Regions from separate parts of the Homo sapiens genome. Here region 2 is linked to region 1. The links come from fine-mapping of genetic effects on gene expression. A gene starts in region 1. The other region holds a variant in brackets. All regions are shown on one strand. Distances are between the middles of the regions. Region 1 holds the start of PLSCR1 (phospholipid scramblase 1). Region 2 has its middle 20 kb from the start of PLSCR5-AS1.

Region 1 (5,387 bases):
ATTTCTGTCCTTTATAAATTACCAAGTCTCAGGTATTCTTTTACAGCAGCAGACAACATATGGAGACATCATTTTTTTCTAATCACTTCTTAAAAGAACATATGGAAAATTGAAGAGTGCAACTATTAAGTTCTGATTAAAAAGTGTTTTGGTTTTTTAATTTAGCACTATTCAGGGCAGTGCAATACAGTGTGTATATACACAGATACACATATATACACATAGAAATTCTTCCTATATAAATATTCACTAAATATAAAGCTTGTGTGGTTTTAAAGGAATTAATTGAAGGCATAGAGCATGCAAGGCACTATACCAGGCACTAGAGCACAATACCTAGACACTAGGGGAGACAGACAATTAAGAATTAAATATATTATTAAAAATACTCTAAGTGCTATAAATAAAATTAATGTTGCTATAAGAAAGGGTTATGGGGCACTAACTTAGATGGTGGTAGGGGGTTTAAGAAAAGTCAGACTAGGAGATGAAGGAAGTCTCAAATCAACTAGTCTATGGAGGTATGGTGGGTGGGGTGTTGGAGGGCATCATAGATAGAGGGAACTCCATAGGTAGAATTCCTGAGCTGGAGGAACGTCCCTCATTCAAGTAAAGGAAGACGAGTGAGGTTACAGAGCAAAAGAGGGAGACATTCTTAGAGATGAAGATGGAGAAGTACATAAGGGTCTGCTCACACACATCTGATGTCTCTCCACCTGTATGTACTCTAAGCTCCTTTACAGATCTAAAGGCAGTTTGATCTATAAACCAGCTATTTTACATGCCACTTTTCTATCCAATTGCATAAATCCACTCTTTCCCTTTATATGTCTTTTTCATTTCCCCGCATTTTCTCATTGTTCAAAGCCCTACTATTGTTGTAAACAGGGTGGCATTAAGACAAAGGTTTGCTCTTAGAAAAAGTTCAAGAAGGGAGCCCCCAAACTGTCTGACACGTTTAAGTGTCACTTGTAGTAACCATGTATCTCAATGTGATAAGCCAGAAAAAACAACGACTGCCTGTTCCTGGAACTGGGAAGTGGCCATGCCAAGACTTCCAGGAATAACAGTGCATGAATGAAACCACCTGGGAACCAGAGAATCAGCTTGGAGAAGCAGGAACTTTGTCAAATATTTAAAATAATAAGAGCTAACTTTCACTGAGTACTTTCTGTAGCGCCAGGCACTGCTCTAAGAATTTTACATTAATACTCTGTAGCTCATTTAATAGTTACACAATTTCAGAGATGAGGCAATGGAAAGAACATATATAAGAAGAAAGTGGCTGACAGTCCACAGACGTGAAGCAGTAGAGGCCGAATTTAAAGTCGGGGAGCCTGACTGGAGCTAATGGTCTTAGGAACCGTGCTAGATACCGCCACTATCTTTCCTAAGCTGGTATTGTAGAGGGCCTAGCATAGATGTGGGCTCCGGCGGACTTCATTGAATACTTACTGATAAATGACAGCTTGCAGGCTGTATTAACCATTCCTTCTAATAGCCCCACTACGCTGGCACATGCTCCTGAGCCCAGACTCTACCCAGGATTCAGGGCCGCTCTCTACCTGTAAAGCAGTGTAGCTAAGGGGAAGCTGAGCCCCGCAAGGCGTTTTCAGGCAGGGCACCCCTTGTCATTCGAATGGTTCTGGGGTGAGCCCGGGTGCCGCTGGGCCGCCTGGGGCCCCTTGCCGTGTACCTGCTCCACTTCCAGGGTCCCTTTCAGAGGCCTCTTGCATTTCTGGCCCCAACCTTCACCCCACATCCTCCACCCCCAGAGCAGCAAACACAACCTGCGGGCCCTCGCGCCGGTTCCCCACAAGTTGCCCTCCACACCTGACCCCGGCCCTGGCCCCAGCGCAGGCTCCGCGCAGTTCCCGCGCCCAAGTCCCCAGGAGGCGGCAGAGAAAGCCGCCCGCGCACCTCTGGCTGCCGCTGTTTCCGCTCCCGAGCGAGACAAGGTCCAGAGAGCCGGGGCCAGGCGATGGCTTCCTCTTCTGCGCCTCTAGACTGCCGGGCACAGCTGCTGCGCAACCTTCTCAGAAGTCAGCCGGAAAAGGGTCTGGGAGTAACCTTTGCGCCAACACCCGCGGCTCCTGGTTTCGTTTCCTGAATCTTACGTACACAACACGGTTTCCTTTTCCCGGTTCCCGCGCTGGCGCTCGGGGACCCACGAGACTACTGGAGGGTGAAGGAGCTGGAGGAGGGACTGCGCCCACCCCCTGGTGTGAGGCCCCTCCCCTACCCCCGACTTGCTTTCTTGCTCATTGGAGAGACTCCAGAGACGTTTGTCCGGTGGTTAAGGAGAGGAACTGGGACTCCGACACTAACTGGAACTGGAAAGTCATCAGCTGGGGAGTGGCCTCCCCCGGGAACTTTCTTTACTCTGGCTTTGACCTCCATCCCTCGGAAGCCCGTGGCTTTTCAAGGCGAGGGAGTAGAGGCAGCTTAAGACTACAAATGAGGAGGGGCCAAAATTGTTTTTCTTTATGGTGCCTTTTCTTTCTTGCTGTCTTGCTCTTTCTTTCCTTCTATTAAATTATGTGATATTACTTTTTAATTTTTAAGCAGTTATTTGAATGTTTTCGAGCTCACTTTATTTTTTTATAAATATTGTTCCTTTTTAAACTAAAATAGTTTTTATTCTGTGTATTTAAGTTATTTGTATGACATATCCATCAACTCCTATAATTACACATTTCCCCCCTTGGGGCAAGAGCAGCTATAATCTACTTATTTAGCATAAATCCTGAATACCACTATCATTAACTATAGCCCTCATGTTGTACATTAGGTCTTCCCATTTGTTCATCCTACGTGTTTGTAACTTTGTATACTTTTACCTAAATTTCCCCATTTCTCCTGACCCCACTCCAACCTGGATGACCCTGGATAAACCAGTGGTCCCCAACCTTTTTGGCACCAGGGACCAGTTTCACGGAAGAGGATTTTTCCATGGACCAGGGCCGGGTGGCAGACGGTTTCAGGATGATTCAAGCACATTACGTGTATTGCGCACTTTACTTCTATTATTATTACATTGTAATATATAATAAAATAATTATACAACTCACCATAATGTGGAATCAGTGGGAGCCCTGACCTTGTTTTCCTGCAATTAGAAGGTCCCATCTGGGAACGGTGGGAGACAGTGACACCAGAAGTGTGTTGCTTATGTCCAGTCTACTCCGTAATCTTGTTTTGGTTGCTGTCACTGCAGAAAATCCTGCTTCACAAAGATAGCATGTTGGAAATGGAAGCAGACTCTTCAGTGCTTTTGTGGCAATCTCAGGATATCCCACCTTGAGTTTAATCCAGAACATGGGATTTGAAGCTGTCTCAAACATACTTTTAAGGCCACCATCATTTGTGATCTCAAGCAATTGATCCTCTTCTAGTACGGACAAAATCGATTCACCTGACTTACTCACAAATGGGTCATGGATACATTCATTCCCAGTTCAGGGTTCTTTTGTGGTTGGGTAGTAATGCTCGAACTCTTTTGAAAGCTAAGATAGGTGATCATGCATCAGCTGAGAGAAAGAAGCTGCTGGCTCAGTCTTCTTCAAAATCTCTGCTAATGTTTGAAACATGTCAAAAATCTCAATGTTCATTCGTTGCCCCCATAATTCCAGTTTGGCTTTCAATGCAACCAATTTATCTGCTTCCTTGAACACAGTTGTCCTTCTCTCCTGAAGCGACAAGTTGAGTTCATAGATCGAGTTGAATACATCACACAAGTAAGCAAGTTTTGCAACCCTTTCTGTGTCACTGAAATGTGCCGCCAATGGTGACTGATTTTCTAAAATAAATCTCTGGAGCAGCTCTCATAATTCAAAAATTTCAGCCAGTGATCTACTTTTAGAAAGCCATCTCATTTCTGTGTATAAGAGAAGACATGCATGCCCAGTGTCCATCTCCTCACAGAGCTGCACAAACAGATGTGAGTTAAGAAAATGTACTTTAATGTGGTTGATTATTTTTGTCACATCCTGCAAAACATTGTTAAGTTCAGGTAACATTTTTCAGCTAGCCAGCATTTTTCTGTGGATGACACAGTGCATAGACTCACATTCTGGTCTCTTTGACCAGAGTAGTGAAACCAGAAAGCCATCCAGTCATGGCAGCCACTCCTTCCATGCATATACCTACACAAAATAACCAATTCAGTTTTCTTGATATGTAATCATTCAAAGACAAATAGTTCTTCAGCTGTGGTTTTGATTGGCAACAAAAATTCACATAATATATCCTTGTGCACATCTTCCTGAAAAATATATCACACACAAAAAAGCATTGTTGCTTTGTTGTCAATATCAGTAGACTCATCAACCTGGATTGCATACCAATTGCTAGAGAGGATTAATGGTGACTCATTAATCCTCTCTAACAATTGTACCTCGATATTCTCTGCTATTTCATCAATTCATCTAGTTATGGTGCTAGCCAGAAGAGGAATATGTGCTATTTTTTGAACTGCAGCCTCTCCTAAAAGTTCCCAACAAATGTCCTTAGCAGCAGGCAGGATCAATTCTTCACCAATAGTAAAGGGCTTCTTAGCTTTAGCAATGCAGTTAGCCACTATGAATGATGCTCTCAGTGCAGACACATTTGATGACATGGTGGCCTTCAATAATTGCTTCTATGTGTTCTTTGTGTTCATGGTTTCATGGTTTCTGTTTTTTTTTTAAACAAAACAAAACAAAAAACTCCAAAGGCTTGTCTTTTAATGCAGAGTGCTTGGTCTCCATGTGGCAAAGTAGTTTTGCAGGTTTCATGGCTTCATTGGGCAGTTGGTCACCACATATTATACAAAGCAGGATTGGAGAATGTGAACCACCTGTTGCAATGAACCTGTAATTTAAGTAGGACTCTTGGCATTTTCCTTTAAGTGCAGCTTTCTTTTTGTTAGCAGTCTTAGAGTCTTCTGTTATCTCACCTTTGGGTTTTTCCCCATTTTCAAAGAAGCTGTCCAGTGATGTTTGTTTTTCACTCACTTTGATGTTTTTAACAAAAACTTTTTTTTAACAAAAACCCTTGTTTTTCACAAGGGTTAGCTTGTGGGCTTAGCAAAACTGTGACTAAGACAAGTGCACAGTGTGGAAAAGAGGTGCAGATGGAAGTGGTAAAATAATGGGTGGGCCATGCACAGACTAAAATAAGTGTTGGATTCTGACTTAAAGCCTGCCACCAGATGCAACTGTACAATTGAAGTACATCAATTTTCCACTATAAAGCCTGCCTCCAGACACAGCTTAATTGTCACTTGTCATTTGCCCCTCACTGATAGGGTTTTGATATGAGTCTGCAATCAATGTATTTATTATGGTCTCTGTGCAGTCAAAACTCTCTGCTAATGTTAATCTGTATTTGCCGCTGCTGCCCGATGC
Region 2 (5,387 bases), 24 kb after region 1:
TGCAACTTTTCCAGGTGTATGGTGCAATGTGTCAGTGGATCTACTGTTCTGGGGTCTGGAGGACAGTGGCCCTCTTCTCACAGCTCCACTAGGCAGTGCCCCAGTGGGGATGCTGTGTGGGGGCTCCCACCCCGCATTTCCCTTCCACATTGCCCTAGCAGTGAGGGCTCCACTCTCGCAGCTGACTTCCACCTCAACATCCAGGCATTTATATACATCCTCTGAAATCTAAATGGAGGTTCCCAAACCTCAATTCTTGATTTCCATGTACCTGCAGGCCCAACACTGCGTGTAAGCCACCAAGACTTGGGGCTTGCACCCTCTGAAGCAACGGCCTGAGCTGTACGTTGGCCCCTTTTAGCCACAGCTGGGATGCAGGGAACCAAGTCCTGAGACTGCATAAAGCAGCAAGGCCCTGGCCCGGCCTATGGAAACCATTTCTTCATCCTAAGTCTCCTAGTTTGTAATGGGAAGGGCTGCCGTGAAGGCCTTTGTACTGCCCTGTAGACATTTTTCCCATTGTCTTGGTGATTAACATTTGGCTGCTTGTTATGTATGAGAATTTCTGCAGCTGGCTTGAATTTCTCCTCAGAAAATGGGTTTTCTATCACATTGTCAGGCTGCAAATGTTCTGAACTTTCATGATCTGCTTCTTTTTTAAACATAAGTTTCAATTCCAAACCATATCTTTGTGAGTGCATAAAACCAAATGCTTTTAACAGTACGCAAGTCACCTCTTTAACACTTTGCTGCTTAGAAATTTCTTCTACCAGATGGCCTAAATCATTTCTCTCAAGTTCAAAGTTCCACAGATCTCTAGGGCGGGGGCAAGATGCCACCTGTCTCTTTGCTAAAACATAGAGAGTCACCTTTGCTCCAGTTCCAACAAGTTTCTCATTTCCTTCTGAGGCCACATCAGCCTGGACCTTATTGCCCATATCACTATCATCATTTTGGTCAAAGCCATTCAACAAGTCTCTAGGAGGTTCCAAACTTTCCCACATTTTCGTGTCTTCTTTGGAGTCCTCCAAACTGTTCCAATCCTTGCCTGTTAACCAGTTCCAAAGTCACTTCCACATTTTTGGGTATTTTTACAGCAGCACCCCACTACCCTGTACCAATTTACTTATCAGTCTATTCTGATGCTGCTAATAAAGACATACCTTAGACTGGTATAAAGGAAATTTATAAAGGAAAGAGGTTTAATGGACTCACTGTTCCACATGACTGGGGAGGCCTCACAATCATGGCAGAAGATTAAAGAAGAGCAAAGGGACGTCTTACATGGTGGCAAGAAAGAGAGCTTGTGCAGGGGTACTTCTATTTATAAAACCATCAAATTTCATGAGACTTATTCACTACCAGAAGAACAGTATGAGGGAAACTGACCCCATTTTTCAATTATCTCCACCTGGCCCCACCCTTGACACATGAAAATTATTACAATTCAAGGTAAAATTTGGGTGGGGATACAGCCAAACCATTTCAATTATTGACACATGCAGTGCCATAGCTACCCCTATGTTATGGACATACATTTCTGTCAATTTATCTCGGTAAATGTTTGGCTTTCTAGGCAGTTGCCTGAGCTTGTAGTTACATAAAACTCCTGTTTGTTTGTTTGTTCATTTTACATGGAAAGTTGTAATGGATGATTGACATACTCTCCATTGTGAAATTTCAATGATGAATATTAGTCAAGTCTTTGATATTACAAGTATCTGCTTAAATTTTTCATCTGGTATACAATAAGACAATTGATGTTTATGGAAATTAATTATATCCAAAGCACAGTGTTCTTGACACCATGGGGAACAGACACAAAAATGGTTCTGAGTCAAATCCTGCCCAGAACGAGCTCACAGTCTAATAAAGAAAGTGCATCAGAGACAGAAAGTAAATAGCTGTAATACACAGTAGAATATGGTAATTTCATAATAAACTTACCATTACTTTTTTTTTTTGCATGAAGTGAATGGAGAAAGTAACACACACTGGACAAAAATTAGAGAACAATTTTGAGGCAGAAACTGTGTTGACATTAAAAGATAAAGTAAATCAGGCATGGTGGCTCATGCCTGTTCAGCACTTTGCGAGGCTTACTGAGAATCGGTTGAGGACAGGAGTTTGAGACCAGCCTGAGCAAGATACTGAGATCCCATTTCTACAAAAAAAAAAAAAAAAAAAAAAAAAAATTAGCAGGGTATACTGGCATGTGTCTATGGTCTCAGCTATTCAAGGAGGATGAGGTGGGAAGATT[T/A]CTTAAGCCCAGAATTCAGGGCTGCAATAAGCTGTAATCACACAACTGCCCTCCAGCATGGGTGACAGTGAGACCCTGCCTCAAAAATAAAAACAAAAACTAAATATGAAGAGCATTTGGGCAGGTAGAAAAATAGAAAAAAAATGTACTAAGGGAGAGGGAAAAGCATAAATGAATGCAGGAAAATCAGAGTGCCTCAAGCATAGTTAAATTTGAATAAAGTTAGTCAGGCTGAGATTTAAAATTAAGATGTAATTCTTTTTGCTTCAGAATTGAATTTGAAAGGTGTTATACTCGTATTTCAGCTTTTCAACATTGAGGTTTCACTGCCTCCCTCTCTTGTAGGCTAATACATGTGCAGGTTTGTTTTTGTTTTCTTGTTCTTGTAATTGTGCATAAATGTGTGAAGGGCAGGAATTAAAATCTGCATCCTGTGTGGTGATTTTTGATAATTCCTCAGCCCTCACAGCTGTTCAATTTGCAGTTTGAATAACGGAAACATTCCATCTTGCAAAGATATTTACATTTTGGTATTCTCTGGAAGCCACAACCAGGCATAAATACAGTGAGTGATGTGCCTATATAAACGTCTGTTGCATTCATAAATGCACATGGTGGACCCTATTTTGTGAGAACAAAGGGATAGAATTAAAAGTTGAATATCAAAAGTTGAAATATGTTTTACCTTCTACAATGAAAAAGAATCATAAGTCATACCAAAGAGTTTACTCTAAGAGTGACTCACTGTAAATCTTTTTATAATTATTGAATGCATGTTTTAAAAAATCCATTCTACTTTACTTATGGTATTTATTTTTGCAAAATCCATGTTATTTATAATACAAAGCAATACAATAATGTTTTTGTACATTCATCTCATGGAAAATTTGAATAGTTCATTCATAGTGGTTATTAAAGACTGTGGGTAAGAAGGAGATAACATTAATTTCCTATAGCTGGAAATGTTTTATAATATATATATATTTGATAGAATTTTTATTTGTTTCAGAAAAGTAATACTAATATCTAAGAAAACAGCTAGCAGTTTGTCAATTACTTGTGACAGTTTGTGAATCATTCATGTGGATTATACATTTACAATTTTTCTTTTCTTTCTTTTATAGTGTTATGAAATCAAACAAAAAATTAAGCTTCTGTTTTATTTTATTTTACCAATACACAAATCTGGCTCCTAATTCTTGTGCCAAAGTGCACAGTGACTGGTGCATTTATTAAGTATATGTAAGCAAAACAGTCAGCAACTGATTATACATTTGTTTATGTGAAATCTACATGTTTTGACTACTTTGTTTTGGTTAGTGATGTCTTCATTGCTGATATTTACCTTCTTTTGAGAATTAAAAGACATAATATTTAAAATGTGTGGATTATGCTTCTTATTAGAACTTATGTTAAAATATTTCCTGGAAAGGGAGTGAAAACTCTTAATTCAAATAGAAAATGAAAATTTTCTTTGGATTATTATATTAAATCATAGCCATTCCAGGAACGTAGTAATATGTTTATATTGCATGTGTAATTTACATTTCCTTTTATTTATTTTTCAGACCCTCTTGTCCTTCCTTAATGGATGTATTAATTTTTCAAATTCCTCAAAATACAGTAGAATTTTGTTTTTAAAATTTTTTTATGTTTTTTGATTTACATTTGTTTCTTCATTGGTCACCTATTTTTTGGTTGTCTTGGTTTTCTATGCTTCATATATGTAGTGGTTCTTAGTTCACTTATATTTAAGAATGGAAGACCGGTGACTCTTGTTATTTTTCTCTGTCGTATATGTCCATTTTTCTACTAGGTCTCTCCCACTAGTAGGACTAGGACTGGGAACCAAGGTAGAGACAGTGCTTATCACAATTAGGGTGAGCAGGTGAGGAGATCGCTCTTTGGATGCTAAAATGAGGAGAGTGCCATCCTTTGGCATGGGAAGCCATTCCAGAAACTTCAAAACCTTAGTTCTCCCTGTGCAATTAATTAAGATTCAATAAGAGTACTAATTTGGATTCCTGAAAGTATAATGCTGGGCTGCTTAGGCTTAGTGTTCATTGAGATAAGGAAGAGACTAGCAGTGAGGTTGGTGTGGGACACCTGACTAGCATATTTCATTATACAGACTTTCAATTAACTCTGTTTTGAGTTGTTCTTCGTACTCCCACCTTGCCTGGTATTGCTGTCTTTGAGCCAGGTAGCTCCCTGGGATAAGGACTTTTCTCCATCATAGACTGTTCACATGTGCACATTTAATCTGAATGATAGGCTCACATATTCCTCCATCTATCAGTGTTCCAATATGACTTGGAACTTCAGCCTAGAATTTATGAATATCTTTTTAAAAATATCCTGTGCTTGCTTTGGCAGCACATATACCAAAATTGGAACGATACAGAGAAGATTAGCATGGTCCCTGCACAAGGATGACACGAAAATTTGTGAGGTAAATTTGAGAGGTTGTTTTTTCTATCAGCATTTGCATTTGCTATAATTGTATTGTGGACTTAGGAGAGAGGAGAGACAAGTTATTTTCAGTGCGCCATTTTGAACTTTAAAAGGCACTTTCAGACACTTGGTTTTAAAAGATCAATCCAGGCCGGGCGCGGTGGCTTACGCCTGTAATCCCAGCACTTTGAGAGGCCTAGGAGGGTGGGTCATCAGGTCAGGAGATGGAGACCATCCTGGCCAACATGGTGAAACCCCATCTCTACTAAAATACAAAAAAAAAAAAAAAATACCCACAAAACAACAACAACAACAACAACAAAACAAAACTGTAGTCCCAGCAACTTGGGAGGCTGAGGCAGGAGAATCACTTGAACCCAGGAGGTGGAGGTTGCAGGGAGCTGAAATCACACCACTGCACTCCAGCCTGGTGTCTCAGGAGACTCCATCTCAAAAAAAAAGAAAAAAAAAAGATTAATCTAGCAATTATATGGAGAATGGACTGTAAGATGGAGAGGCTAGTGTCAGGGAGAATAAGCAGGCTTAGGAATAAGATAGTGACAGTTGTGAACACACAAGAAGAAATAATTTCTTCCCTTAGAATGACAGATACAATTTTAATGTAAATACAATATGTCAATATCCAGACTACATTCTGTTCTAAATTATTTTC

What was found. PIP is the estimated chance that this variant, and not a neighbour inherited with it, causes the effect. A credible set is the group of variants that fine-mapping cannot tell apart.
Region 2: its variant is the best candidate, but not a certain one, in a credible set for the expression of PLSCR1 in whole blood (TOPMed, PIP 0.52).

What each region holds. Positions count from the first base shown.
Region 1 is chr3:146,542,547-146,547,933 of GRCh38, forward strand. It overlaps PLSCR1 (phospholipid scramblase 1), which reads right to left and starts at 2,061. Exons shown (of 9, transcript NM_021105.3): 1 at 1,921-2,061. RefSeq lists an enhancer at 1,911-2,390.
Region 2 is chr3:146,566,857-146,572,243 of GRCh38, forward strand. It overlaps the pseudogene RNU6-428P. Among named protein-coding and RNA genes, the nearest start is that of PLSCR5-AS1, 20 kb to the right of the region's middle. The variant T/A (reference allele first, on the strand shown) is at 2,261.